Regions from separate parts of the Homo sapiens genome. Here all the other regions are linked to region 1. The links come from fine-mapping of genetic effects on gene expression. A gene starts in region 1. Each other region holds a variant in brackets. All regions are shown on one strand. Distances are from middle to middle. Region 1 holds the start of SLC5A11 (solute carrier family 5 member 11). Region 2 overlaps PRKCB (protein kinase C beta). Region 3 overlaps TNRC6A (trinucleotide repeat containing adaptor 6A).

Region 1 (10,460 bases):
ATTTTAATTATGAGCAACAGACTCTCCAGGAAATAGATATGTCGTGATAAAGCGTAAAGTGTAAATACTTTAGAACTGCACCGCCCTGACTCAGATCCCAGCTCTGCCTCCTGTGAGCTCCTTCATCGTGGGCAAGTCACCTCTCTGAGGCTCAATTTCCCATCTACGAAATGAGGTTAATAATTAGACATACGTCACAGGTTTGTAAAAAGCAGTAGGCATGTTCATTGTATGTGTAATGTGATTAAATACAGAGTACTTGTTCTGTTCCCCGTCCATTTTATAAAACCATTTTTTTTAAAGAAAGCATGACTTGGGAGGCTGAGGCAGGAGGATTGCTTGAGCCCAGGAGTTTTGTTTTGTTTTGTTTTTTTTGAGATGAAGTCTCACTCTGTCCCCCAGACTGTAGTGCAGTGGTGCAATCTTGGCTCACTGCAACCTCTGCCTCCTGGCTTCAAGCGATTCTCCTGCCCCCAAGCGATTCGCCTGCCTCAGCCTCCCAGGTAGCTGGGATTACAGGCGTTTGCAACCACGTCCGGCTAATTTTTTTTTTCTTTTTTTGTATTTTTAGTAGACATGGGGTTTCACCATGTTGGCCAGGCTGGTCTTGAACTCCTGACCTCAGGTGATCCGCCTGCCTTGGCCTCCCAAAGTGCTGGGATTACAGGCGTGAGCCACTGCCCTGGGCCCAAGCCCAGGAGTTTGAGACTGCATTGAGCTATGATTGCACCACTGCATTCCAGCCTGGTGACAGAGTGAGACCCTATCTCTAAAAACAATAAAAATAAAAATAAAAGGAGCATAAACTAGGCCGGGTGCAGTGGCTTATGCCTGTAATCCCAGCACTTTGGGAGGCTGAGGCAGGTGGATTGCTTGAGGTCCAGAGTTCGAGACCAGCCTGGCCAACGTGATGAAACCCTGTCTCCACTAAAAATACAAAAATTAGCAGGGCGTGGTGGTGGGCTCCTGTAATCCCAGCTACTTGGGAGGCTGAGGCAGAAGAATCGCTTGAACCTGGGAGGTGGAGGTTGCAGTGAGCTGAAATTTCACCACTGCACTCTAGCCTGGGTGACAGAGCAAGACTCTGTCTTAAAGAAAAAAAAAAAACGAATAAACTTTGTGGTTAGGCAAACCTTGGCCACATATGTGCATGAATCATGTTTTGAAGTCACAGCCTCCCTACAAGGACTCTGATTAACTCCATTGTACAGGTGAGGAAAACAAAGCTGAGGCCGGGTCTAAGGCCACACTGCTAGTAAATGACTGAAGCAGGGCTCCAACCCAGGTTTAACTCTAGAGCTCCTAACTACCCCGAGACACGTGGACCTTGGTGGGGAAAATTCCAGATGTGATAAGGACTGGCACGGGTCTCATCACCCAGGCTGGAAGCCACTCGCACCCTTTCCTACCACTCCTGGGCTGCAGTGGCGCTGACTGCCTGCTGCACTGCAGCAAGCTGTGCCCTGGCCTGGCCTGGGTCTAGGGAGCCTAGTGGAGGCAGCCCTACAAGAGGAAAAGAGTCAGTCCTGGAAGGCAGAGAAGGGCTGTCTGGGACTAGAACTGCAGGAATAAGGAGCTAAATGACCACCCCTGGCCTCCTCCACCCGTTGATGCCATGGGGTTCATAGAAACAGAGAGATCTCTACAAAAAGGCCAAAAAGACAGATCCTGGCTGGGCTCAATGGCTCATGCCTATAATCCCAGCATTCTGGGGGGTCAAGGCATGAAGATCGCTTGAGGCCGGGAGTTTGAGCCCAGCTTGGGCAATGTAGTGAGACCCTTTTTTTTTTCTCCTCTACAACAAATTTTTAAAAATTAGCTGGGCATGGTGCTGTGTGTCTGTGGGCCTGGCTATTTGGGAGGCTGAGGCAGAAGGATTGTTTAAGCCCAAGAGGTTGAGGATGTAGTGAGCTGTGATTGCACCACTGCACTCCAGACCCTGTCTCAAATAATAGATAATAATAATGATAATAAAATAAAAAATTTTAAAAAGACATCTCAGGATTTGAGGCTGAAGCAGAGGCCAGGATCACCCCTAGTCCGTTAGCAAGAGCCACGGCTTCAGGTATCTGGAAATAAATTCTAGGCATGGCAGGGCAGGGCAGCGTTCCCTGAATGGTCCACAGCAGGGTAACAGGGCATATGCCCAGTGAGTGCAGGGGACCCGGCAGAGCGTTGTCCTTCACCTGCCTTTCAGGGATGATCTTGTCTCATTATTCCAGAGAGAATAGACATCACAGAGCACCTTCTGAGCCCAGACCTGTCCATCCAAATGCCAACGTGGCATCTCTCATGGATATATATATATATATATATATATATATATTTTTTTTTTTTTTTTTTTTTTGCCCCCAAGGCAGAGTCTCGCTCTGTTACCCAGGCTGGAGTGCAGTGGTGCAATCTCTGCTCACTGCAACCTCTGCCTCCCGGGTTCAAGCGATTCTCCCGCCTCAGCCTCCCGAGTAGCTGGGATTACAGGCATGTGTCACCACGCCTGGCTAATTTTTGTGTTTTTAGTAGAGATGGGGTTTCACCATGTTGCCCAGCTTGTCTTGAACTCCTGACCTCGGGTGATCCACCCGCCTCGGCCTCCCAAAGTGCTGGGATTACAGGCGTGAGCCACCGTGCCCGGCTTCTCATTGTTACTTAATAGATGTCTGAAAGTTCACACGTGCGAGTTACAGACCAAGCTTTCCAGCCCAAGCACGTGCTTCTTCCAGTCTTCCCCACCTCACTAAATGACAGCTGCAGCCACTCTGCCACTCCTGCCAGAAACCTGAGTCATCTATAAGGCATTAGTCCATTTGTTCACTTATCAAGTGGTCTGTGAGCACCTCTATGTGCCAGGCACTACATCTAAGCACCAAGAGTGCCTGGTATGTAAATGTCTCATCGAAGAATTTATAGCATCTCTTTCTCACCTCCCAGAATCTATTCACTCCCAATTCCATTCTCTCTTACTTCCAAAACATAATAAATCCACACATTTTCCCTCATTTTTAGTGCTATCACCCTTGTCTGAGCCACCATCACTTCTGTCTAGGTTAGAGAAAGACCCTCCAGTCTTACCTCCCCGATATCCATTCTTCCTTCCTTTTTATTTTATTATTTTATTTTTGTTTTAATTTACTTAATTTTTAGAGACAGGGTCTTGTTCCCTTGACCAAGCCGCAGTGCAATGGTGCCATCAGAGCTCACTGTGGCCTCAAACTCTCGAACATCTGTGCTCAAGGGATCCTCCCACCTCCGTCTCCCAAGTAGGTGGGACCACAGGTACATGCCAACATGCCTAGCTAATTTTTTATTTTTTGAGACAGGGTTTCACTCTGTTGCCTGGGCTAAAGTGCAGTGACACAAACACAGCTCCTGCAGCCTCAACCCCATGGGCTCAAATGATCCCTGCACAGTGCTGGGATTACAGGTGTGAGCCACCATGCCTGGCCTCCAGCTAACTTCTTATTTTGTAATTTTTTTGTAGAGACGGGGTCTTGCTATGTTGCCCAGACGGGTCTCAAACTCCAGGCCTCAAGCAATCCTCCCAACTTGGCCTCCCAAAGCACTGAGGTTGCAGGCATGAGCCACCTCACCCAGCCTTGCTTCCTTTTAATCCGCCCCTCACACGGAAGCCAGAGAAATCTTTAAGTATGAGTCAGATCAGATCATTTTCCTGCTCAAAACATCTCCATGCTGCTGGGGTGCTTTGTTGTGCTTCCAACCCCACCACATACTAGCATTCATTTTATTCCTGGAACACGATTTCTGGCCTCAGGGTCTTTGCCATTCTGTTCCCTCTGCCTGGGATGCTCTTCCCTGCACTCTTTGCTGGACAAGCTCCTACTCATCCTTTAGATGTCAGCCTGCTGTATATCCCCAAAGGAGCCCCCTCTTGGCCTCAATATAAATTGGGTCCCCAAGCTTTTTGCTTTCATGGCAAACACAACTTCTCATCACAGTCTAATCAAGTGTAACACTTGATGTGTGTGATTACCCCTTGTCTGCACTGCACAGCAAGCCCCATAAAGAAAGGTCCATGTCTCTGTCACTCTCATTGTGTCCCCAAAACAGGCATGCAATAAATGTTGGTACAACAAATAAATGTGGGATTTTTAGAGCCTTTGCTATAGATCCTTTGCACGCTGTGACCGCCCAAAAAAGGGACAGCATTTTTCCAAGTCCTATCTGCAGGATGCCCAATGGGCTAGGACACTTCTGTCAACTATTGCCCAGAATAATTCAGCAGAACACCATTTGAAAACCACTGATTGGTAGGGTGCAGTGGCTCATGCCTGTAATCCCAGCACTTTGCAAGGCTGAGGCGGGAGAATCGCTTGAGTTCAGGAGATTGAGACCAGCCAAGGCAACACAGGGAGACCCCATTTGTACAAAAAATAAAAATAAAAAAGTTAGCAGGGCATGCTGGTGAGCTATGATAGTACTACATTTCAGCCTGGGCAACACAGAGAGACCCTGTGAAAGAAAAGACAGAAAAGAAACGAGAGAGAGAGAGAACAGAAAACACACACAGAGAGAGAGAGGAGGCAAAGAAGGAAAGAAGGAAGGAGAAAGGGAAAGAAAGGAAGAAATAAATAATAAAAGAGAGAGAAGAAAGAAAGAAAGAAAGAAAAAAGGGAAAAGAAAGAGAAACAGAGAGGTGGGAGGGAGGGAAGGAAGGAAAGAAGGAAGGAGAAAGAAAGGGAAAGAAAGGAATAAGGAAAGAAATAAAAGAAAGAAGGAAAGAAAGAAAGAACAAAGAAAAGAAAGGAAAAGAAAGAAAAAGAAAGAAAGAGAAAAAGAAAGAAAGGAAAGAAAAAGAAAATCACTGATATTGTGGCTGAGCTCATGGCCACAGGAATTGAGTCTTGGCTTGGCCACTCACTATCTGTATTACCTTGAGCAAGTTATTTAATGACCCTTAGACTCTGTCCATGAATTAGGGGGTGCTGTACCTACCTTACAGGGTTTCTGTGTCAGTTAGATGAGATCCAGGCGTAAAGTTCTCTGCACGTGTCTGACACGTACCAGTGAAGACTTGTATTTGCCTTGTAGTTAACAGCAGCTGCAGTTGTAGTAAATACATTCCTATAGCTTTTTAATGCTTATGTGGATACATTTACCTTCGTTATCTCTGGGTAACACACCTGTGGGGTGGGTCAGCCTGAGGTTCATATTCCCATTTGACAGATAAGGAACCTGAGACTCGGTGAGGCAAAATGTTTGGCTCAATGTCCCTGACCTTGGTTAAGTGGAAGAGCTGGGACCCACGTACGGTGCTGCTGGCTGCCGGCTGCTGGCTTCATACCACCATGCCCACCCCACAAACACACTCCATTGTCCTGGTGTATGACAAGCTTTCTCTGCAGAGAGGGCTGAGCTTCCCCTGCCCCACAGGTGACAGCTGGAGTCCTTCTGCCAGCACCTGTCCCCAGACCAACTTCCCAGTTTGGAGAGTGGCTACCTGTTTGGGGGCAGGGGGTGTCTTACCTTATTCCAGATGCAGGGCTCACCTGCCCTGGGGGCTGTCAGTGGCTTCTAAGGCACTAGGAGGTGGCGGTGGTTGTAAGGAGGGAGATACCCGGGATCCTCTCTCTTTGCAGCCAAGAGCTTCCGGAGACAGCAGTGACCCTTCCTCCTATATGCCCGCTGCTGAGAGAGCCTCCAAGCGGGTCAAACTCCAAACTCCAGCCTCAGCTGCAGCGGGGATTAAAGGAAGCGTGAATGATCTCCCCAGGGCAGAAGAGAGAACGGGGCCCAGCCCAGGACCCTTGAACTCTGAGCAGGTGGGGAAGGTGACATGTCCCACGCTCTGCCCACACCGTCCTCCACCAGGGTCCTCACCTGCGTGGGGACCCATGGCATGGAGGGGTTGGGGAGACGCTGGAGCCCAAGGCACCATCCTGCTTCACTCACCCAGTCTTCCACTGTCCCGCCTCCACGCTGGGGACAGGCAGGCTTGGGACGAGCTGGAGGAAGGGGAGGGGAGGAAAAATGCTGGCGGCGGATGGAGGGGACAGAGGCAAAGTGCCAGGAGGGACGTCCAGCCACAGCCCTCACCGCAGTGGCAGCAACAGGAACAGCAACCATTGCTTGTGCAACCCCTTTCCATATACTCTTCAGACAGAGGCATGGCAAAGAACAGGTGTCTGCCTGAAGTCGAGAGTTCGAGACCAGCCTGACCAACATGGAGAAACCCCATCTCTACTAAAAATACAAAGTTAGCCGGGTATGGTGGTGCATGCCTGTGGTCCCAGCTACTCGGGAGGCTGAGGCAGGAGAATCACTTGAATCCGGGAGGCGGAGGTTGTGGTGAGCCGAGATTACACCATTGCACTCCAGCCTGGGCAACAAGAGCGAAAATCAGTCTCAAAAAAAGAAGAAGAAGAAGAAGAAGAGGTGTCTGAGGCCCTGAAAAACCGTCAGGAGTGACCGAGCCATGGCCAGGCGCCCACATCGGGCCCAGGACATCAGCGGGGCATAGCGAAGATTTCTGCCAGATGCTCAAAGCATCCAAAACTTTATTTACTTTTTATTTCTGAGACAGGATCTCACTCTGTCACCCAGGCTGGAGTGCAGTGGTGGCATCACAGCTTGCTGCAGGCTCATCCTCCTGGGCTCAAGTGATCCTCCCACCACAGCCTCCCGAGTAGCTGGGACTACAGGCGTGCACCACCACACCCAGCTAATTTTTTCATTTTTTTGGTAGAGAGAGAATCTTGCTATGTTGCCCAGGCTGGTCTCCAACTCCTGGGTTTAAGTGATCCTCCCACCTTGGCCTCCCAAAGTGCTGGGATTACAGGGGTCAAACACTGTGCCAGGCCAAATACCAAAACATTTTAAAAATAGTTACTAGTATTTGCAAACCAAGAGGCTTGAAACATAATTCTAGAATACTCACTTTTCTAGAACAACCTGAAGATCTGGCCTCACCAGGCCCCCATGGCCACAGGACAGCTGCTGACTGGGGAGGAGTCGTGGCCTCCCCATCTCACTCCTTCACTGGGCCTGCCAGGCTCTGGGGGGCCCTCAGCTGAGGCCCCTGTCCTGGCACCGAGTAGCCAGAAATAATAGCAGTGATGAACACGTGCCAGGCTCTAAGGGCACAACATGCCTTTACTCACTTGGTCTTTCCAACAACCCTCGAAGTTAGGTCCTGTTATCTCTATCTTACTGACGAGGTAACAGAGGTAGAGGAGATGAGTCATCGGCCCAGGATCACCCGGGTTGTAAGTGACACAGCAAGATTTCAGCCCAGGCCACCTGGCTCTAGAGTCCTGCAGGAGCAGTGGAGGGTGGCTTGACTGGATAAAGGGTGGCCTGGGTGAGCAAACACTGGGTGACTGACCAACACCAGTATGAATGGGGCCTTTGGGGGAGGGACCTGCCCTGGGGGACAGATTTACAGAAGGAACAGCTGGGATTGGAGAAGAGGGACAGACAGAAGGCCATGAATCTGTGATCTGCAGCAGAGGCCACAGCACCAGGAAAGGCAGTGGGGTGCCACCGAGGGTGCACTGCTTCGCCAACCTGGGGTCCAGTCCTGACTTCTTGGGAATGTCTGGGGAGCCTTAGCCATGTGCAGGGTGTCTACAGAAGAGGCGTGGTAGTGAGTGAAGCCGGGCAGGTGGAGCTGAGGCTGACCCGAGAGCATGTGTCCCAGCTGAAGAGGACAGCCACGACCCAGCTCCACGTGGGGGAAGACAGGCCCAATGGGGTCAGAACTTCTGATTGTTCTAGAGAAGTTCTGCAAAGTTTCATGATTACGCATCCTTGAGGGCCAGATGTGGCCTGCTCGACCCTTGGCTTGTCACCTCCGATTGTTTCTCTGTCAGGTTTTTCATTTTTACCCTCAGTGCTATAAAGAATAGGAGAGGTGGAGTGCAGGGGCTCATGCTATCATCTCAGAGCTTTGGGAAGCTGAGGCAGGAGGATCTCTTGAGGCCAGGAGTTAGAGGCCAGTCTGGGTAACTCAGTGAGACCCTCATCTCTACACAAAATAGGAAGAATTAGATGGACATAGCAGTGTGCACCTGTAGTCCCAGCTACTCAGGAGACTGAGGTGGGAGAATCGTTTGAGCCCAGGAGTTCAAGGCTGCAGTGAGCCATGATAGTGCCACTACACTCGAGGCAACAGAATGAGATCTCAATTCAAAAAAAAAAAAAAAAAAAAAAAGAACTGTATAACCACTTTAGAGAACTATTTGGACATTTCTTATAAAGTTACCATACACTTTGCCGAGCGCGGTGGCTCATGCCTGTAATCGCAGCACTTTGGGAGGCCAAGGTGGGTGGATCACAAGGTCAGGAGTTCAAGACCAGCCTGCACTCGTCTCTACTAAAAATACAAAAATTAGCTGGGTGTTGTGGTGGGCCCCTGTAATCCCAGCTACTCAGGAGGCTGAGGCAGGAGAATCATTTGAACCTGGGAGGCAGATGGAGGTTGCAGTGAGCCAAGACCGTGCCATTGCACTCCAGCCTGGGTGACAAGGCGAAACTCCATCTAAAAAATAAAATTAAATAAATAAATAAATAAAGTTACCATACACCTCCCCCATGACCCAGCAATTTCACTCTTAGGTATTTATCAAGAGAAATGGAGACATATGTTCCCAAAAAGTTGTGCACACAAGTGTTCATGGTGGCCTTATTCAAAACTGTTTCTAAGTGGAAACAACACCAGTTCCATCGACAGGTGAGTGAAGAAACAAACTGCGGTGCATCCAACACCGTGAAAAACTTTCATCGAAAGGAATGAACTACCCAACCCACGCAACACCACGGATGAATCGAAGACTCTACGAAACATTATGCTGAGCAAAAGGAGCTGACCTGGGCTGGGTGCGGTGGTCACACCTGTGATCCCAGCACTTTGGGAGGCCGAGGTGGGTGGATCGCCTGAGGTCAGGAGTTCGAGACCAGCCTGGCCTATGTTGTAAAACGCTGTCTCTTCCAAAAATATAAAATTAAATTATCCTGCTGTGGTGGTGTGCGCCTGTGGTCCCAGTTACTCGTGAGGCTGAGACAGGAGAATTGCTTGAACCCAGGAGGTGGAGGCTGCAGTAAGCCAGGATCACGCCACTGGACTCCAGCCTGGGTGAGACAGAGCAAGACTCCATCTCAAAAAAAAAAAAAAAAAAAAAAAAAAAAAGCTGACATGAAAAGAGTACAGACCTTATGATTCAATTTATGTGAGGCTCAAGAACAGGAAAGATGGATTTGTGGTGACAGAAGTCAAAGAACAGGACCCAGTGAACAACTGGAAGAGGGTGGGAGTGTGCTCTCAGAGGTGATGGAAATTTCTATTATCTTGAATTGGGTGGTAATTATACGGTATATACAATTGGTAAAACCCCGTGAATTGAAGGATGAACACTTATGCTTTTTTTTTTTTTTTTGACCAAGTCTCACTCTATCACCCAGGATGGAGTGCAATGGCGCCATCTCAGCTCACTTAAACTTCTGTCTCCTGGGTTCAAGTGATTCTCCTGCCTCACCCTCCCAAAGTGCTGGGATTACAGGCATGAGCCACCGCGCCTGGCTGACTCATGCATTTTATTGTATGTAAATTATATCTTTAAAAATGAGAGCAGATGGCCGGGCACAGTGGCTTACCCCTGTAATCCTAGCACTTTGGGAGGCCGAGGTGGGCGGATCATGAGGTCAAGAGATCGAGACAATCCTGGCCAACATGGTGAAACCCTGTCTCTACTAAAAATACAAAAATTAGCCAGGCGTGGTGGGGTGCACCTGTAGTCCCAGCTACTCGGGAGGCTGAGGCAGGAGAATCGCTTGAACACAGGAGATGGAGGTTGCAGTGAGCCGAGATCATGCCATTGCACTGTAGCCTGGGTGACAGAGTGAGACTCCATCTCAAAAAAAAGAGCAAATATACAAACAGTGAATTCATACAGAGCAAATACACTGAGCAAATACAGTTATTGCGAGTCTGTCTCCCAGATTTTAGTTCCAGCCCATTGTCACCACGTAAGAACGTGGGTCTTATGTTGCCAGCATTCCTTTTGCAAGAGAAATCTAAGTCTGGGTTTTTTTTGTTTTTGTTTTTGTTTTTAATAGAAACTCTGATGACTTGTAAGGTTTGGTAAATTCAAAAGCAACAAAATAGCTAAAATGCGGGGTGTGTCAAATGATGCACGGGGCTCTGTTTGGAATCTGTATTCCTGGGTCGCATGTTCTCCTAGAGGGCTCAAGATGTGATTTCTTCCTAGATTTTCTGCAGACTTTTAATAACACACCTTTGCCTACCCACATCCCTAACAACTCAAATGTTGCTATTTGTTGCAAGAATTGAAAAGAGCAAATCCTCAAAACTGAAATAAGCTTTTCTAGGCAACATGCAAGCCTGGGAGAAAGAGTCCCTGTTAAGACAAGATACATTTGTTGACTTAGCAACAGTGAGCCCTTGGGCAAGTCTCAGTCTCTCTGAGCAATCAGTTTCCTCCCTAGCT
Region 2 (10,460 bases), 990 kb after region 1:
CAAGCAAGCTTCAGCTAGACCCAACCTTTCCATAGGTAACAAGTAAAAACTCTCAACGAAAAAAAAATTTTTTCCTGAAATTACTCGAAAGTGAACAAAAGAAAGCAGATTCTGCAGAGAGGTTGAAACTTGGAAGAAGGGAATGGTCATTTTACAGCTTTTCCCCTGAACGCAAGCTGCTGTCAGCTAAAACTTCAACATGAAGCCTCAAGTCTTTCTGGTGTACAGAACCAGAGGACAGGTTTCAGGTCACTCACGGCTTCTGGAAAGTGAGGAAGGAATTCCATAATAGAGACAGCCAAGAGAGAAGAGCCCCAAATTCTGTGTCTAAACCCCACCCAAATGTCTGGCTGACTCTTGAACCATGCATGCATGGGGCAGTCCCAAAGAAGACTCAAGGATAAAATAAAAAACAGAACTGACATCTGAGCTGGTGTCCCAGAGACAGTCTACTGTCCAACCAAGTCAATGGCCTACTAAAACAAAAACATCAATGCTTTTCAGAGAAATACGAATGAATCCAGAGTCTCCACAGCACAACACTTACAGTGTCCAGGATACAATCCAAAATTACCCGACATACAAAAAACCAGGAAGATAAGACACAATCTCAAGAGAAGCTAATCAACCAGGAAAAAAGGGGGAGGAGCAATGATTCAGAGTAGGTTGAGGCAATAACCTCAAATTGTGTGAGATACAATGCATTCTACTGGAAAGAACAGAAAACCCATCTTAAGACGTTTTAAGCAGTAAGAGAATTATCTAACAAAACAAAATTTCAAGAGATAGAGCTATATCAAGATTAGTGAATTCAGGGGCTCAAGGATATTGTGAAGGAGACAGATCCTCTCCCTCTTTTTACACTGCCATTTACAGCTTGCCAACCTTGTCCCTCATGGTCAAAACATAGCTGCCACAGCTCCAAGCACCACATGCAAATGTGACATGAAATACTTAAACACAAATCCTTTGTCCTATGTCCCCTTCCTTCCTGCTTTGCCCTGTGAGTATGTGATTCTGGGAGCTATCACAGCCTTCCTGGGACCAAGAAGGGAGACACTGATCACATTTTGAGGATGGCAGAGCAAATAACTGAGAGGCGCTTGATGACAGTGTTAAGTCTTTGATTAAACCAACCCTGGAACCACCAGCCTCCTTGTTAGGCTCGCCAGATATTCTGTTTTTAAGAACCAAAGCAGGTCAGGCATGGTGGCTCATGCCTGTAATCCCAGCACTTTAGGAGGCGGAGGTGTGAGGATTGCTTGAGCCCAAATTCAAGACCAGCCTGGGAAACACAGTGAGACCCTGTTTCTATAAAAAATAAAATAATTAGCTAGGAATGGTGGGACATGCCTGTAGTCCCAGCTACCTGGGAGGCTGAAGTGGGAGGTTTGCTTGAGCCTGGGAGGTTGAGGCTGCAGTGAGCTGTGTTTGTGCCACTGCACTCCAGCCTGGGTGACAGAGCAAGACCTTGTCTCAAAAAAAAAAAAAGAACTAATGCATCCTATCTGAAACAACCTCCAGAATTGGAGAGCTAGTAACACTTGCTATAAATAGAAGGTGAGTATGAAGAACACAATGAAAATTTAAATTATTAAATTCTAGCAGGTACATAGCTCTGAGTCTGAGATTGCTTCATTCTTTTAGCTTAAAAGGGAGATTTGCATGCATTAGAAAGATGTTTAGGACATGATAGCACCAAACTAAGACACTCTCCTTAACCCGAAGAATTAAAAGAAAAAAACATTTTTTTCTTTTTTATACTGAGTCTCATTCTGTTGCCTAGGCTAGAGTACAGTAGCGCGATCTTGGCTCACTGCAACCTCTGACTCCGGGTCCAAGCAATTCTCCTGCCTCAGCCTCCCGAGTAGCTGGGAGTACAGGCACACACCACCATGCCCGGTTTTTTTGTTTTGATTTGTTTTGTTTCTTTTTTTTTTTAGTAGAGATGGGGTTTCACCATGTTCACCAGGCTGGTCTGGAATTCCTGACCTCAAGTGATCCACCCACCTTGGCCTCTCAAAGTGCTGGGATTACAGGTGTGAGCCACCACACGCGGCCTACAAGAGAATTTCTTTTAAAACTACGTAGTTCCATGTTGTTGAATACCTTACATCATTAAAAATCTTTGAGTGCCACCAGTAACATACTTCAGATATTTTAAAAATGCACCCCTGTATTAACAACTCCCAAACATTTACCTCTATCCCTGACTTCTCATGACTTCCAGTTGCCTTTGGGCACCTACACCCGGATATGGCACAGGCACCTCATCCTCAACATACCCAACGCATAATTCTCTATCTTCTCCCCCAAGCTTTCTCTTCTTCTTGTATTCTCTGCTGCTATTCATGATATTTCTATGTATCAAGCACCCAAACCCGGACTCCCTCAATAGGTGACAACATTTATAGTACTTTTTTTTGGTACTAAGTGCCAGGGTGCCACTGCATCTTACACAAGCACTAACATATTTGATCCTGACAACTCTTATTAGGTAGGTCCTATTATCATTCACCCCTTTTTCAAAATGAAGAAGCTAAGGATAAGAAATTTGCCTGGGGTCATGAGATTTGAATGCAGGTCTGTCTAATTCCTCTTTTTTTCTGCTTCACAAAGAAAATAGAAACCACCAAGCAAGATTTCTCAACTGGCCTCAAAACTTCATTTATTTCCCACCCATTTTCCCATCACTTCTCATTTTCACCTGTGCTCTCCCCTCCATGGGTCCTTCCCTTCCTTGACAACTCTCTCGCTCTCTCTCTTTCTCTCTCTCTCTTTCTCTCTCTCTCTCTCCTAATGCTGTCAACCTCACCCCCTTGAGAAGTGCCATGCTCCCTTTGGGAACCTGGAGGTCTTTCTCTCCTGCTTTTAAAGTTTCCTGCCTTTTCTCTGCCTCCTCCAAATTTTCTATTCTTCAAGCTAAACATCCCCGGGTACTTCAACTACTTCTTCCTGCCAAGTGTCTTCTCTCTCTTGCTTCTCCCCGCACCTCACTGACATTCTTCCTCTCTCTTTCACTGCTTCCTCTGCCTCAAAACCCAACTGAGAACTCAGGCTCCTCTGTGCAGCCTCCCCAGGACCCTGGGAGGTGAGCTGCTCCTGGCATTTCTCCCCCCTCTCCACCATTACAGCACACATCACACTGAGTTATCAATGTGTGATTTATGAGTCTGGCCTACAAGTTTAGGGGCTGCTTGAGGACAGAAAGCAGCTTCCCCCTGCCCATCACAGGGCGGCTGACTATGCCAGCCAGACCACGCTGTGCTATCACTCCTTTTACACTACTCTCTTCTGAGTGGACTTTGGAAAAGATACAAAGGAGGGATCTCACACTTTCCAAATCAGACCCCACAACTTGATATGCCACCTTCTGTGCCCTGGCCAAAGACTGACCAGGGATACTGGTGGAGTAGCTGAACCTGGACCTTCAAGCCTAGGAGTCAGACCACCTGGGTTTGTTGCCCTCTTCAACTACTTAGCTTAGAGACCAGTGGCAAGTTAATTAATGTCTCCTGGGATTTGTTTGTTTAGAGAGAGGGTCTCACTCTGTCACCCAGACTGGAGTGCAGTGGTGCCATCAAAGCTCACTACAGCCTCAACCCTCACAAGCTCAAGGGATCCTCCCACCTCAGCCTCCTAAGTAGCTGTGAATATAAGCACGAGCCACCACACCTAGCTCATTTTTTTTTATTCTTTGCAGAGATGGGGTTTCACTATGTTTCCCAGGCTGGAAGCTATTTAATATCTCTAAGCCTCAGTCACTTCATGAAGTTAATAATGAGATCAACCTCCTAGGGTGCTGTGGACATTCAATGAGATCATGTGTGTGAAGCATCCAGCTCAGTGCCTCAATAAATTAGTGCAGCTCTTCAGGGAAGTATTATTCCATGAAAGTGCCTGCTGTATGTAACCCTCTTCCTTCCAAGTGACTCAACAGCTTGCATAGTTCTCAGCCTGTCCTCCCAGCCTGGTAACTTAGGCATGAAGAAATCAGCCTACTGTGATCACGTGGCCAATGAAAGTCCTCAAACTAGAAGCCACTTTCTGAATTCCTTATTCAAGGCTATGGCTAAAAAAATCTACACATGTGCAAACTCCCCCACTGGGAAAAAAAAAAAACAGTTTGATGGAAGTATTCCTCCCACTAGAGAATTTCCCCTTCCTGTCAAATGTTGCCAGTTTCATTCATTGCTGTGGCAGGCACACTTTCCTGGCCATGAGAGATGGGCCTTATCACCATCCCGTATACCAGATCCTTCCTGGTTGCCATTCTGCCACACTCTTACGGGGCCTTCCTCACCATGGTGCTCCTCTGTGACCCCCGGAGCCCTTCACCTTGGTGAACAGACAGTCTGACTCGAATGGACCTGAATTCAATCTACGCTCTGCAGTTACTTAAGCAAATGTTTTATCTTCTCTAAGCTTGCTTTCTTATCTACAAAAGGGATAAGAATAGCAGCAAATCTTAGTGGAAGGTAAAGATTCAAAGGGATAAAGTTTGTGAAAATGCCCAGCTCATTGCAGACACTGAAATATTAGCTGCCTTCATCATCATCATCATCATCCTCATCATCAACGTCATTGTCACCATCAATTCTGAAGTTACACAATCCTAAAACCAAGTCTATTTTTGAATCCTAACTGTAACTTTGGAAAAATTTCTCAATTCTTTGTGCTGTTTTCTCAGCATAAAATGGCAACAATAACAGTAGCAGCCACACAGGGCTGTTGTGAGGATTAAATAAGTTAATACATGTAAAGTACTTAGAACAGTGCCAGTCACCGAGTGAGTACTCAATAAATGTCAGCTCAAGTTAATGGCATTTGAAATCTTTGAAGACATCCAGGAAATGGAAAATTCCCTTGGCCTCTCTGTCCAATGAATAGAGATCCTTCTAGGGACTGCAGACGCACGTGCGCACACACCCACACACACACACACACTCTCTCTCTCTCTCTCACATCCTCAAGCAGGGACAAGCCTAGCCCGGATTTCATTTTTTT[C/T]TTGGACTTGACTTTTCGTCCCATCTGGAGTGCCCTGGCCCCCCTATGGCCCTTGGGCCCCAAATCAGAGACGGCCAGAAGGGAAACACAGAGAGGCCAGCTGTCATGTGGGCCCCCACCTATCAGGCACACCAGAGAACATAAACACACACTGAATCCCAGCCCTTGGAAGTCTCGGCTGGAGGCAACCCTCAGCAGAGTCCCACCATGGGGATCTGACCCACCTCCGTGCTGGCATACTGTTCCCACATCTTCTGGCGGCTCTCTGCAGCCCCTAAACACCTCCTCCTCCCTCCCTCTGTGCTGATTCTGCTCATAAAACACTTCTTTCTCAACCCACATTATCCCCCAGGATAAGCAGCTCCTTCTCTCTGCAGGAGAGGGACAGTTCTCCGCCAGCATTCGACACAGCTCTCTGACACTTCACCCGAGTGACAGGTCAGGCCAGGCAGTTCCGCCAAAACCAATCATTCCATTTCTAAAAACCTCTTATACCATACTTAAAATTCTATTTGGAAAAATAACTTTTGTCTGTGATATGTTAAAGCTGAAAGATGATAATAAAAATTATCTTGGGACATGGTGATGGGGTAAGAATAAAACTTCTAATTATAAAGAATTCAAAGCACTACATTTATATCATCTCTAAAGATTAAAAAAAAAGCCTCAACAGTCCATGGGCCAAGTTCATGAGCCCCCAGAGCCTCTTCTCTATATATTTCACAGTGATATTCGAACTACATTGACAGTTACCTGCAGTAAGAGACACATTTTACATTTTGACCCAGTTCACTCATGGCTATATATGTTTATATCAAATAAAAATTGTATGAGGCCAGGAGTAGTGGCTCATGCCTATAATCCCAGTACTTTGGGAAGCCAAGGTAGGAGGACTGTTTGAGCTCAGGAGTTTGAGACCAGCCCGAGCAACATAGGGAGACCCTATCTCTACAAAAAGTTTTAGAAATTAGCCAGGCATGATGGCATGTGCCTCAAGTCCCAGCTACTCATGAGAATGAGGTGGGAGGATCTCTTGGGCCTGGGAGGTTGAGGATACAGTCAGCTATGATTGTACCACTGCACTCCAGCCTGTGCGACAGACAAAGACCCTGTCTCAAAAAAAAAAAAAGTTTCGTGAAACAATATCTACCCTTCCTGAGAGTGATGCACTGTGATATTTTCTGTTCTGCTTTCTTCATGGTATTCTTGACCTATTATATTGACTTCATGAACTTCTAATGAGTGATGACCCACAGTTTAAAAAACATACATAGAAGAATTCAAGAAAACTTTCCAGAGTGGGGCTGCAATCTGATACAGGGGTTAAGGGCAACAGGACATTGAAGTCATGCAGTCTGGGCTTGAAATACAAGTTGGAATCTCCTGTGACTCAGGAGTGTGTAGCATAACAGAAGTAATGTGAGGTATAAAGTATCGTTGGTTGGATATGAATCCCAGCTCTCCTCTCTGGTAGCTGGATGACCCAGGACAAGCTATTCCCATGTCATTCCCTAGGCCTAGTCAGATTAGGACTCTCTGTCCATGATATTCCAGTGCCAGCAAGTACAGTCTATGAATCTGGATAGTAACTAAATCAGTACTGTGAATGAACCAAGGTATAGTTTGAAATGAACCTCTAAGAAAGACATAGAAGCACGCAGTGAACCCCAGAAGGCATTCCCCCAAATGCAGCCCCCTCAAAACCATCTATAGGGACAAGGCACTCATTCCCCCAGCTGCTGGGAAAACCAATTGCTCACAGCTGTGTCCTCCCTGGGACTCCTCCCCTGAAGAAGGGAGCTGCTTTGCCCAAGGTAATGCTGCCTTCCAAAGAGCAGCCCACAATCAATGCCCACTTGATGCATTGGCTTGTCCCAGTTCTGAAGGGCCGTCTCAGCTCCAGCCATGGAATTGGCTTTGGCCTCTATTACAACTATTGCACCACAGTTCAACTACCTCTTCCCTGCTTCCCTCTATCCCTTATAGATGTTGTTCCCAAGAGCTACATCCCCAATAAACCACCTGCATACAAATCTTCATCTTTTAAGACAATTTATCAATGATGCTAGCCAGAGTTGCAGAAGAACTAAATAAAGATGAGGTCTTTAGGACATTTTTACAAGGGCACATTTAAGAACTTATATTTTTTTCTATAACTAACATTTAATAAGCAATCACATGATTTTTGTTTTCATTTTTGTTTTTTGTTTGTTTGTGGTTTTTGTTGTTGTTTGCCTGTCTCATTTAATCCACATAGAACTCTGGGAGGTAGGCTCTGTGCCATTATCTTCATTTCACAGACAAAGAAACTGAAGATTAAAAAGAAAGATGCCTAAGACCCCACATGTGATTGGGGAGGAACTGAGGCCTGAACCCATGCTCTTGACCAGTAAGTCATCAGACCTCATCCGCACTCCATCACAGCTCTGTGATCACACTGACCACACTGTGTTGCAAGAACTCACTCACACGCCTCTCTCTCTCTCTCTCTCCTGCCACCCCCTCCCCCGCCGGCTCTCTTTATTCTCTCCCTCCTCAAGTACAGGGGCTTTGTCTTCCTTTCTCTGAATCTCAAGCTTTTAGGGAGTGCCAAGTGGTAGTAACGGTAGTATTTGATGGCAGTATTCAGTAGTCATGGTGGTAGTATTCAGTGTTGCGTGTGCACTAAGTCCTGGCCGTATCCTTTGCATACAGCATCTCATCTGGCCCTACCATTTCCCTAGGAGGTAGGTAGTATTATTATCAGGTGTAAATGTTGAGCACTCATTTGGGGCCTGCCTTTGATCAAGTTCATTTTCAGAAATGCACACTAGACTGGAGTATGTTTTTAGACAGCCAAGCAATTGCGAGGACCACACTGAAATTAGTGTGGTGGGTTCCAAAAAATATCACAAATTATTTGCAGCTTCTCCCATCAAGAGGAGGCATCTCTATTCTCTTCTCTATTTCCTCCTTTACTTCTGGGGTGGGCTTGTGATTTGCTTTGACCAGGGAATATGGCAGAAGTGATGTTATGCATGTTCTGAGCCTTGGCTTCAAGAAGCCCTGCAGCCCTTGCTCATGCCCAGAGAATGCACCCATCAGCATATGACCATGCTCAGGATAGCCCACTGGAAGATGAAAGACCTGAAGAGAGGCCCCAGTTGTCCTAGACATCCCTGCTGAGGCCCCAGGAAGGTAAATGAGCCCAGCCAAGAACAGCCAATCCCTGCCCAGATCAGACAGACCACCCAGCTGAGCCCAGCCCAAATTACTGACCCACAGAAACTAAAACTAAATAAAACAGTGGCTACTTTAAGCCACTAAGCCTTGAGGTTATGTGCTATCCAGCAATAGATAATTGATTTGTTGGGTGTCCAGTCAAATATCTGGAAGTAGAACCAACAAAGGATTCTTCTATATAACAAGTCAGCTTAGAAGAGAACTAACCCGGCCTCAAAGAGATCTGCTTGGGATGTCCACAGGTGATATGGTTTGGCTGTGTCCCCACCCAAATCTCATCTTGAATTGTAGCTCTCATAATCCCCATGTGTCATGAGAAGGACCTGGCGGAAGGTAATGGAATCATGGGGGTGGGTTTTCTAATGCTGTTCTCGTGATAGTGAATAAGTCTCACGAGATCTGATGGTTTTATAAAGGGCAGTTCCCCTGTGCACGCTCTCTTGCCTGCTGCCATGTAAGAAGTGCCTTGACCTTCCTTTGCCTTCTGCCATGATTGTGAGGCCTCCCCAGCCATGCTGAATTGTGAGTCAATTAAACCTCTTTCCTTTATAAATTACCCAGTCTCAGTTATGCCTTTATTAGCAGCATGAGAATGGATTAATACAACAGGCAACCAGAGAGGCAAGAATTCTGACTGATTGAAAAACTAGAAAGTCTGACAAGAGCCAGATTGTTCTAATAACTAAAAACAAGAAAAGTGCTTCTTTATTTCACTTTTAGGAACACAAATAGAACTCACTCTTTCCCTGCTATGTTTGATAAGATAAAGACGTCCAGAGTTTTGCATCTTAGTTTTACCAGTCAAGTGAGAGATAAAACTAGATACATCACCGCAAAGAAAGACAAAGGAAATTATGGCTTTGGAGACTGGAGTGAGATTTACTGAGTTCATCAAAACCTGTTTTCTTTTCCTCCTGGACATAGAGCTAGTCGACATGTCCCAGGACCCCCTTCCGTTGGTTGCCTCTTTGCCTGGGTTCTGGCAAATAGAATGTGAGCAGAAGTGATGTGACTTCCTTCCCCAGCTGAAGTTGTTGTGAAATGAGTGTGCTTTCTCAATTTCCCTTTCCCCTTCCACTGGCCCAATGGGGAGGACCCTGGGGTCCTGTGTGACTCTGTGGAAGATGTCCTGACCAGGACCACCTGCACTGGTTAGTGACATGAGTAAGAAATAAACTCCCTTCTGTCAAGCCACAGAGACTTCAAGGTTTGTCTGTTACAGCAGCTTTAATAGATTCTTACTAATACAGAATTTTTGAAATGTTAAGCCCTAAAAATAGTTTGTGAGCTCAAGTTTTCCTAGTATTTACAGAGCTAAATTATTGTGTGGAAAAACTGTCAGAATGCCCTGGCTTCCTTGTTGAACAGTCTGGAACCGATGGGCAACATTGAAACAGGAAGCAGATGTTCCCCAAAGAAGGCAAACGGCACCATTCCCCAATGGGTGATTCCAGAAGGTGCCTGTCTCCCATACGGATTTCACTTCCTCTATGCAAAACTAAAAAAGTCCCAGCTAACATTTCTCAGGCTCAGCCTCAGTAACTTAAAGCTCTGCACTTTTTAAATTTTTTAACAGAAAAATGGGCATAAGTCAATGGAGTTGCATAACAGAAAAGTGGGCATAAGTTCAGGAACAGATGAAAGTAATCATAGGTGATAGAGGTTAGGATAGTGATTACTCCTGAAGGATACGGTTGATAGGGATTGTGAGATGATGCTTCTAGGGTACCAGCATGTTCTGTTTCTTGATCTGGATGTCAATCAATTCTTCTTAAACTCTTCCAAAAAATTAAGGGAGTATTTCTAAACTCATTATCCAAGACTATCATACCAAAGCCAAACAAAAACACAAGAGAAGAAAACTATAAACCAATATCCCTGATGAACATAGATGGAAAAATCCTCAACAAAATATTAGCAAACCAAATTGAAGAACACATTAAAAGAATTTTATTCACCATGATCAAGTGGGATTTCTCCCTGGGATGCAAGGATGGTTCAACACATAGAAATCAATAAATGTGATACCCATGTTAACAAAATAAAGGATAAAAATCATATGATCATCTCAATAGATGCAGGAAAAAAAAGCACTTGAAAAAAATTAACATTCTTTCATGAAAAAAGTACTCAGCAATAAGGTATAAAGGAAATGCACTCAACACAATAAACACTATGGGCTCTATTATGACAAACCCGTAGCTAACATCCTTCTCAGCACTGAAAAGTTG
Region 3 (10,460 bases), 27 kb after region 1:
ATTTTTACCCTTGTTTAGTCTCTCTTCTTTGACTAAGCAAGCATTATAATACCATTTGTGGGCAAAAAAAGGGGGGAGGAAAGAAAGTTTAAAATGGTGTAACTCGTTAGTTTGCAACAACATTTAAAATTTTCTTTATACAACAAACAACTCTGTAAGCCCAATACCTTGGTTACAGTATGCATAGTTACTGATTTCGGCTTTAAGGTACAACAGTTAAACATTAACACAGTCACGAGAGAGCAGAAACATATGGAGCCACTTGATGGGATTACAAAAAATTATTACCTATTGATTATTAGCAAACCATCATCACTCACTAATAAAAAGACAGCATCTGAAAGCAGAATGTCAAACTCCAGCTTTAAGCGTTTTTTTGTTTTTTCTTTTTTTTTGGCAGAGAAAATTCTTTAACAGAGCAATATGTAGTATCAGTGCTAAAAGTTGGGGTTTTTCTTTTTTTCCTCTAAGAAACTACAAGGAATTTTTTTTTTTTTTTTTAAACTGGGGAACTGGTTTTCCTGAGAACCATGCTCTTTGATTTGGGACAGGAATAGAAAAACAAAAGAACATGGCCAAATGCTGCTCCTTTTTCCCAGAGATAGAAAGCATCTTTTAAATCATCCTCCATTTTTTTTTTGTCTTTTACATTTTTTTTAAATGATGGAAGAGTAAACATTTTTTTTTCTCAAAAAACAAACAAAAAAATCTGTAAACAAGAAGGTTCAAAGTGAGAACCTCCAAAACAAAATGGAAAGCCTATTCAAAGTGCAGGGCCCGTCCTGGGTGGCAGGTGGGCTGCAAGTCACAGCTGTGGCCACAGTTTTTCAAACTGCAGAGCGAAATTCTTTAGTTTTACAACATGAAAAAACTGGTGCAACACTTTCATTAATAATCCTAAGTCAGCATCCTAACTTGATCTTTTAAACTCCACGATACCACAATAAGGTAGGCAACATCAAGGCATAGTAGAGAGCGCACGCCTCCTAAGAACACCCTTGAGTAAACATTGACACTGGGACAGCTGCCCCCCATACTGCCGATGAGACGGAGAGAACATCATTCAGTGCAAAGGGAAAAGCTCATACGTTATCAGCCCAAAAAATGGTTTTGCAAGAGAGAAAAAAAGGGGCGGGGGGGGGGGTTGGGGAGGAATAGAAGGAAAAAAAAAAAAAGAATCCAAAGGCTAAACATGATGAATAGACACAAGCGAGCTCATTCTCTACGGTTTAGCATGTATGGCGCTATTTGGGAGTGTAAATAGAGTAGATACCTTTTCACATTATAATATTGGCCTGCATGATTCAAGTATTCAAACTGATATGTTTTGGGGAAAACAAAGTGGAAAATGTGCAGAGAATAGCTGTTCCCACAGGCGGCCCCTGGCTGCAGGCGGCGAGCCCCACTTAGTGCTCCTTTCCCTCGCGTCTGAGGTCCCGGTCGGTGAGTCTGCATCTACACTGTTACATGGACTCTCCACCCCCACCCAGGTGGTCAACAGAAAGAAAAGCGTTAATGGGAGATGGGCTGCTAATTCCTCGGGGGTCGCTGCTGCTTGGGGGACCCCACAGGCTTGTGGAATAATGCGGGGTCCCCCAGAGTGAAGTGCCGTGAAGGTCTCCACAGTTAGTTCCCGACAGCCCAGCACCATTCCAGTGATTGAGATCGGTCCGGCTGGAGAATGAGTGGGAACAGTCGAGGGAGCCCAGCCGGCTCTGGCTGGACCCGAGAGACTGCCAGCCGGGAGAAGGGGTCAGAGACTGGCTTTGTGCAAAGAAACGACTGATCTCCTCTTCACTGGCAAACTCAGCAAGAATAGTAGTGTTCCCCAGTACACACCTAGAGGAGAGAGGCACCGCGGACACGTGAGGACAGCACACCAGGAGGGCTTCATTCACTCACAAGTGAGGGTGCAACTTGTCTCTGCTAGAAAAGCCACAGAAGGCACAGAGGGAGAGACTACACCACATAACCTGCGTGCCCTCCCTTCACCCGAGTGTGCACCCACAGCTCTCCAGGGCCTGGTGCCTTGCCCAGAGCGAACTTCCTCTGTCTGCCATGGGCAACGTAAGGGACTTTCTAGGGCCATCTAGCCAGGTCTGATTCCCCGCTTAGGAATGCCGACCTTGGAATCAGGGCACTACTGCAGCCAGCAGGAGCCACCCACGCAGGACCCTGTGCACTGCCCCGGGTCAGGCTGTGCTCTCACACTCCTTCCCCTAGACTCTTCCAACTGGGAGCCCAACAGCCAACTTACATGTGCAGAGACTTTTGTGCCTTCACTACCTCTTCTTTTGAACTGTAGCGGACCAGAGCATTTCCGTGAGGGAGGTTCAGGTGGAATGTGATCAGCGGGCCGTGCTGCATGCACAGAGTGCGCAGAGTTGAGCCATCGATCTAGGAAACAGTGTGGAAACTGCCAGTGAGAGGCGTCACCGCGGGCCCTCCAGGAGGCTGTTTCAGGCTGCACTGCTGCCCCTCCTCTCTTTCCTGAGGCTCTGTGCTCCTGGCACCACTCTTCACTGACACTCTGACGTTGCTCTGACGGGGTGCAGAGCCATCTTCCCCACCTCCACTGCTCCCAGAGCCATACCGCTCTGGCCTCTAGACTCCTGGACACTCCCCAGATCCCCACTGTGGCTCCATGTCTTCTCTCTTCCCTGCCCTGAGGACAGCATCCATCAAGGTTCTGCTCCCTGAGGGAGGAGGGAGGTGGGAGCTCAACACCCAGCCTCCAGAGGAGGGCGCAGGCCAGGGGCTAAGAAAATGCTCTCACCTCAGGGGCAGACCAGGATTTCTCCATGTGCCAACAAGGACCACCTGTGTCAAATTCATCTGCAGGCCCTCATACAAATGCAGAGTCCCAGCCCCTAGCCCAGATCTACTGACTCAATCTCTGGGTGAGGCCTGGGAATCTGTATGCTTGGTTGGTTCCCAGGCACATTACAGCGTGAACCACCAGATTCGACCACAGCCTGCCTGAGGTCTACAGACCACTCCTCTGCTGTTTCCTCTGCTCGGCTTCACTACCACCTAGCAGCCCTTGTCTCACATACAGACCCGAACCTCTGTTCCCATGCTCCCTGGCGTAGCCACATAAACCAGCGTATCTGGTATCCTTACCTGAGGTGTAAGGTTTTTTAGAACAAGCCAATTTGTTATTCTCCCTGAGCTGCTCTCACCCCAGCTGGAACCTAAACAAGGAAAAAAAGGACAAGTCAGTTTTCCAGGACTGAAAGAGCCCAACTACAGTTACTTAGCAGATCACCTGGCCTCTTGACTTCCTTCACTTCCTTGCACTTCTACATGGGAGGCTTTCTCCCTAGGCCCAGAATTTCAGCTCGCCCTAGCCATGGCCAGGCATTAACTCCTATGGCAGGGGGCTCTGCCTCTGGCGACAGTGAGCTCAGAATGGCTCCCAGTTCACCACAGAGGAGGGCAGTGAGCCACAAAAGGCTGCATCTTTTTGAGATCTTCTCATTGATAGGAGCTAAAATAATCTCAAACGGTACCATCTGGGGAAGACTTCAGTAGTGTCTGATCACTCTGCGTGTGTGTCCTTCAGGGCATGAAGCTTTAAGGGGATTCCAGAGCTTGCGATCGCACAGATGCTCCTTGTTTTCCCCGGGGTTACTGCAGGGGCTCCCCATCTGGCCTTCCTGCTGGACCCCTGTGGCATCCACCCTTCCCCTGGGAGTACAGCCCTCATCCCTGACCCCATCTGCAACTCAAGGCACCTCACAAACACTTCAGGTGCTGGGAAAGACCATTCCATGACACAGCTCAGGCCTATCCACCTCTCACGGAATCCTCCTCCACTCCCTGCAATCCTCTCATCACTCCAACGGGAGCCTTTGTGCTTTCTCCGGTGTCTGGGCCTTGGCAGAGGCTGCCCCTCGGTTCGCTTGGCTTACTCCTACAGGTTTCCTAATTCCACTCAACTGCACCAAGCCTCCCTGGGGTGGGTTCCTGGGCCACTTTCACTAGCGCCCCTCGCTGTGTGCTGCCAGTCTCTTAGCTGGCATCCAGACAGATGTCTGCGGCCTCCAAAAACCACTCACACCAAACCAAAAACCACTCACACCACACCAATTATGTTAACTTGCATTCAGCAGCTTGGCACGTACTTTAGTGTTCTTTTCCTATAATTAACCCGCACTCAAAGGAAAAGCTGCAAGTTTTCCTACAGCCAATCACCTGTCTAAAGATCAGAAATTACATATTTAATCAGAAAATATTAATGAGGTTTTATTACTCATTTTCAGCTTGAAGATGGGAATGTTTGGTAGTTTGCAGGCAAGGTAGAGTGAAGGATAAGACTGTATTTACTGGGGAAACTGCTAGGCTCATCTGGGGCTGTGTGTGTATATGTATGGTGTGGAGACAGCACAGGCAGGAAATGATGCCAGTACAAATCCAATGTTAGTCATTATAGAATGAGGAAAGGCAGAGGAACCAGACTGCCGGGGCCTTCTGGCTTATGCCTGTTGGCCATGTATGATTAATCAACAGCACTCTCTTTCACTCTCAAATGTCCCCATTTAATACAGGCCAAGCTACCCCCCTAGTCTTCAAGGCCCAGATGGCCTGCTCCCATGTTCCCCAGACTTGCCCAATACTGCCTTCTGCTCCATGTGATGTGGTTTAAGCCTGCCATGAGCAGGAAGTTCCTACACATTTTAAGATGTAGTCTTGAGGAACTTCTGAGACAATGGAGCTTCCTAATGCATTAATGTTATTGCAGCCTGTTGTGTGCCTTTGGGTGGATCATTTGTTTACCGAAGTTCTCATTCCCCCTGATGGAGGTGAGGCAATAGTTTACCGTTCAGGTCTCTGTTAAACTCGACTGTTAGTACTGGTTAGC[G/A]TTTAGCAAATAAACCACAGAAACCCACCTTACGACTGCATCTTACCTGGGGTATATCTGGCGTCAGAATTTCCCCATCCTCCACCTATACGAAGGGGAGAATTATCCCACGTAGACAAGGGTGGCTTCTGACCAGTCAGTCCCGGAGGTGGGCGGGACGGAGCAGTGATGTTTTTAGGTGGCAAAGGGACCTTCCACAGCTCATGAGCCAGAGAGGTGTTTGTAACTGAACCAGGAGACCATGTCAATTTGGAATCACTATTTCTGGCTACTCAAAGGGGGAAAAAATGGAGAGGGGAGGAATAATGTTTAAGAAAGGAGGAAATTTAAATAATGACATCCATTCTCCCACAAAAAGCAAATCTAACAAACAAAAGAAACTTTAAAACCCCAAATCAACTAAACTGCCAAAAAAGAAAATCAGTCCAAAGGAAACTGCTTTCCATCCCTCCAAACACTCAAGCCATTGATCTGTTACTAACAGCTGTAAGACCTATGAAATTCTTAGGCCAGTGTCCAAAACTGTACTCAAACTGAAATGGAAAACAATCTGAATTGCTCTAAAATAGCAATTGTGAAATTCTTAATAACCGTAATTGAGTCACTCAAGAAAGGCCATTTAAGTGAATTTTAGAACTTTGTTGTTTACTCAGGGAAAAAAGGACTGCAAAAGAGCCCCAACTCAGGAGCTGCCAAAGGAGATCTTCACGGGGTGCCTGCCTCTCTGTGCTGAGCATTGGCTGCTGGGCACCTGGCATGTGCTGTCTGTGGTCCTGACACAGTCTACTGAAGACAGAGTGGGTAAGTAATTTGCTTATGGGTCTAATGCAGAGCCAGGATTCAAAACTAAGCCTGTATGGCAAAACAAAAAACAAAAAAACAAAAAAACAAAAAAAAAAGAAAGAAAAAGGGAGGGAAGAAGAAAGGAAAGGAAAGGAAGGAAAGACAGAGAGAGAAAGAAGGAAAGGAAGGAAGAAAGAAAAAGACAGCAGGCCCAGTTCCTGACACACACTGCCTCGCAGCAATGGAGACATGAGTGGGTATGCAGGGACCAGGTACACAGTAAACCACATCAACTATCATGCTAAAAGCATGAGGGGACAGCAAGGAGTGGAACAATTCCTGTCTTCCATCACTATCAACTCTTTTTCTTACTTCACTTACAAAGTGTGTGTGCATTAGGTCAGTGCTACTCAGGGTATGGCCAGGAGACCACCACAACACAGTTTCATACTAATCTGCTGCAGGACGAGTCCAGAAATCCAGAGTGCGCATATGTAGACAGACAGCAACCTGACATTCCTGTAACTCTCAAGTGTGCCATCATTTTCCTAGCAATTCAGAATTCATGTTTACCGTATTTTACAAAAGTATCAGTCTATGAGGATTGGCATTTTTTTTTTTTTTTAAAGATCCTCCGCTGCAGATAGTCTGAGAACTAGTTTGGATTAAATTACATTTAATTACAGAGCTGCTGTGGCTCTGAGATGAGATGAGAGCTGTTCAGTGAAAACTGATTTTAGTAGATGACTGCTGGGTACAGTAAGTTTAAAAAGGAGTAAGGGATGTTAAAAATAATTTCCCAGGCTCACAAACAGAATCTCCTAATTCCCTGAGAAGACTGGACGAAAGAAGAGGGCATTAAAACAACAGCCGCGGCTCTGGCTGTGACCAACCCTCCCTTCCTGAGCGAAGGCGAGGCCCACCTGAAGTGCTTTGTGCTGTACTGCTGAGGGGAACGTTGTAGTTGGAGGCACGAATGGATGACCAGGCACTAGTTGAAGGCAGCGTGGTGTTCAAGGATGAGGATGACCCTGTGTGGGGGAAGAGTCCAATCAGCCACCAGAGCAAGGGACGTGGAGGTTCAGAAAAAGCAAAAGCTTCCAGAGAAATCAAAGCTAACAGTATGCCACAAGAAAGGAAACAGGTCCACTCAGGGTAAGATGGTGCCCGAGACATCTTCCTTCTTGCCTTCAAAAGAGCATGCTGAGCGAGCTCGCCAATTGTCTCTGCCTTGGCTCAGCACAGGCATTTTCCCTCTGATTTTGTCCTCACTGGCTGTGAGGATGCGCTCTAGCAATGGGGTCCAGCCACCAAGACAGCACTTGGCTCTGCTTCCCAGCACTGGGTCTAAAAAGGAGGTTCGAGTCTTGGTGCTAACTCGCCCCTGAGCTCCAGTGACTTCTTACTGGCTATCCTGCTCTCTAAGGCACCTGGTCACAGACACTACTAGTGAACAGGCCCTTCAGCCTTCTCCATTACGCGATATATTCAGGCTCCCAAACCTGGTGTAGCTTTCCATTTTCAAAACCCCATCGACCACTACTCTAGTTGAGCTCTAGACCCGACCACCATCTGGATTACTACACCAGTTCCCTGGCTTGTCTCCCAACCCAATCCACTCTGCTCACCACAGCCAGATTACCCCATCTTAAAGATTCTTCCACTCAAAGCCTTCAATGTTCTATTTCCTTTAACACCAAATTCAAACTCTACTGACTTTCAGAGCCATCGGATTCTTCCACTAACTCCCACGCCATGAGAATTTATGCTTGGCTTAGTGTTCCCATAGCGGGCAGAGCTGTCTGTGAAACCCAGCCATTTCACAATGCTAAGGACTCTTCTCTGCTTGTTACCTCTGTAAATTACACGTCTAACGCAACATGGTGGCTGCTTCACATGTGCTTTATAAACTGTTTAAAGGTATAGATGGTATTTTAAAAAGACAGAAAATACTTTTTAATATTTAAAAAATTAATTTCGTTAACACTCTTCTGGTACAAAATCATGGATGAAACACATCTAAATGCCTTGAGGTGAAAAGTAACCCCGTGGCAGGTAATCGGATTTTATTTGCTAACCAATTAAAAAGCACATCTGGACTGCAGGGATCCTTAAATTGGTCTTATTCTTACTCTCTGAAAGACAGCCTAATTCGCTCTTCCAGATGAAAGTCCTTCAATATTCAGAGTATATAAGCATATATAATAATATAACGTCTTTTACAAGAAACACCCATTTTTTAAACTACCATAATCTTGTAACTCAGTATAAAGTTAGTAACAACCTTCATTTGCTGTTTTTTCATTCCTTTAATACAACTGCTGGAAAGCAAAGGTTTGCTGGTCCTTTATGTTAACTTATTAAATTAATATATATATTTGCCATACTAAGGGATGATAAAATCCTCACCATTTAAAAAGTAGCCAAATTAAAGAGCCACCTATGGGAACAGAGAGAATTCTGTCTGCCATTCTTCTTCTTCGTTTTCTTTCTTTTTTAAAGAGACAGGGTCCCACAACTATGTTGCCCAGGCTTGCCTCAAGCTCCTGGGCTCAAGTGATCCCAGAGTACCCTGGGCTCAGTCGCCCAGAGTAGCTGGGTACTACATGAGCCATTCTTAAACTGTGTTAAGTGTCACTCAGAAATTGATTTGCACCCCCTACGTACCACTGTTCCTGTCCCTGAGGTGGTCAACTTCCCGCACAGTATTAATTGAAAGATTGTTTATGACACTGCCAGGAGTGACGTAAGGGTCAGTTTCAGGGTCAATGTTTGGATAACCTTTCCATGGCTCACCAGGACGAAATTCTGGAAACGGAAATTTAAAATTAGTTCAAAGCTTAATCATCATTTTAAAATCCATTAATAAATATCCAAAACCTTTATTCCTGAATCCTATGCAACTCTCAAATACTTTCCAATTTACACTAATACTCTAAGAGGATGGTTCAGTTAATACAATTAGTATTATAGAAGCTATTCTTTATAAATTACTTGCAAGTTTTTACAACTGAAATCATCTCACTGAATGTGAATATACATACCCACACACACACGTAACATATACACATACGTACTTGTGTGTGTGTTAAAAAATCATATATATGTATGTATGTTTGAGACAGGGTCTTTCTCTATCACCCAGGTTGGAGTGTAGTGGTGCAATCACAGCTCACTGCAGCTTTGAACTCCTGGACTCAAGTGATCTCCCACCTCAGCCTCCCAAAGTGCTGGGATTACAGGCATAAGCCACTGTGCCTGGCTGTGATTCATGTATTTTTTTTTTTTTTTTTTTGAGACAGAGTCTCGCTCTGTTGCCCAGGCTGGAGTGCAGTGGCATGATCTTGGCTCACTGCGAGCTCCGCCTCCTGTGTTCACGCCACTCTCCTGCCTCAGCCTCCCGAGTAGCTGGGACTACGGGCACACACCGCCATACCCGGCTAATTTCTTTTTGCATTTTTAGTAGAGATGGGGTTTCACCGTGTTAGCTAGGACGGTCTCCATCTCCTGGGACCTCGTTACCTGCCCACCTCAGCCTCCCAAAGTGCTAGGATTACAGGCATGAGCCACCGTACCCGCCAGATTCATGTTTATTTTTAAACAGTAACATTTAAAAGTGCTTTAAGCTTTAAGACAAATCACAAAGCTACTGCAACTCAGGTAGGAGAAAGCAGGCCATAGAAGCACTTCTGGTAACTCCTATGTATGAATGAAAATACTGCAAGTTACTCCCTGACACAACTTACGAGAAACAGCGAATTAAAGTTTTTGTTGTTGTTGTCTTGCTCTGTCGCCCAGGCTGGAGTGCAGTGGCGCAATTTCGGCTCACTGCAAGCTCTGCCTCCCGGGTTCACGCCATTCTCCTGCCTCAGCCTCCTGTAGCTGGGACTACAGGCGCCCGCCACCACGCCTGGCTAATTTTTTGTAGTTTTAGTAGAGACGGGGTTTCACCGTGTTAGCCAGCATGGTCTCGATCTCCTGACCTCGTGATCCGCCCGCCTCGGCCTCCCAAAGTGCTGGGATTACTGGCATGTGCCACTGCGCCCAGCCTAAAGTTTTTAATATAATTCTTCATGCTGGTCAATGGGGCTCACTTCTACCTCTGCTGCTTGAGCATAAAGGCATAGGTAACAGGCTGACACACTCACTTGCCCAAGACTTCATGCTTAACTTTTCCTCAATCACTTCTGCATTCCTTCTCATCCGCACACGTCAGTCTAAGCACGCCGATCTGGGCTACATCAGTAGTAAGTCCAGATGTAACAAAACCTTAATGGAAACACAGTCTCATGAAAGAAAGTGTTAGAAAAAATTTTACCTGGTGGCCAATTAACACTGCTAGAGCCGTTAGGCGATTTGGCACGTGGCCAGCCATCTCCTATTGAACCTGGAGGACTGGCTGGTGAAGTACTGCTGTTCATAAAGTCATAGGGAACAAATGGAGACTCTTCCAGCCTGAAACCACTTGAAATAGCACCTAACAAGGGAAGAATAATAGAGAAATGTGAGCAAAATACACACAGATTTATTTCTTATAGCTTTTCAAATGTAGCATGAACACTTTCTATTAGATCTGTGGGCTCTAGGCTGTGTTCTCTAGAGTAACTCTTTTATATTGAGATTCTAACATCGCATTTGAAGAATGTCTGAAAATGATAACTGTGAATTTCATTTTAAGTTTATGAGATGCATAAACATCATTAAGTGACCAGAATATGAGTACAAACTTATTTCCAAATCATTAAAACACTTGTATGGTGGAGGGCTATGATAGCTCAGGGGTTCTTTTCAGGCAATAGAAATGTTTAAAAAT

Evidence for each region.
Region 2: its variant is fine-mapped to the expression of SLC5A11 in uterus (GTEx, PIP 0.98).
Region 3: its variant is fine-mapped to the expression of SLC5A11 in whole blood (INTERVAL, PIP above 0.99).

Annotation. Positions count from the first base shown.
Region 1 is chr16:24,841,460-24,851,919 of GRCh38, reverse strand. SLC5A11 (solute carrier family 5 member 11) reads right to left here and starts at 5,957. Exons shown (of 17, transcript NM_001352248.3): 1 at 5,908-5,957; 2 at 5,482-5,688.
Region 2 is chr16:23,852,205-23,862,664 of GRCh38, reverse strand. The region is part of intron 2 of PRKCB (protein kinase C beta); the gene reads right to left. Among named protein-coding and RNA genes, the nearest start is that of PRKCB, 21 kb to the right of the region's middle. RefSeq lists an enhancer at 9,056-9,145. The variant C/T (reference allele first, on the strand shown) is at 5,008.
Region 3 is chr16:24,814,811-24,825,270 of GRCh38, reverse strand. It overlaps TNRC6A (trinucleotide repeat containing adaptor 6A), which reads right to left. Exons shown (of 25, transcript NM_014494.4): 19 at 9,966-10,124; 20 at 8,315-8,455; 21 at 6,571-6,678; 22 at 4,911-5,132; 23 at 3,124-3,194; 24 at 2,258-2,397; 25 at 1-1,839. The coding sequence ends at 1,464. Among named protein-coding and RNA genes, the nearest start is that of SLC5A11, 26 kb to the left of the region's middle. RefSeq lists an enhancer at 1,959-2,459. The variant G/A (reference allele first, on the strand shown) is at 4,865.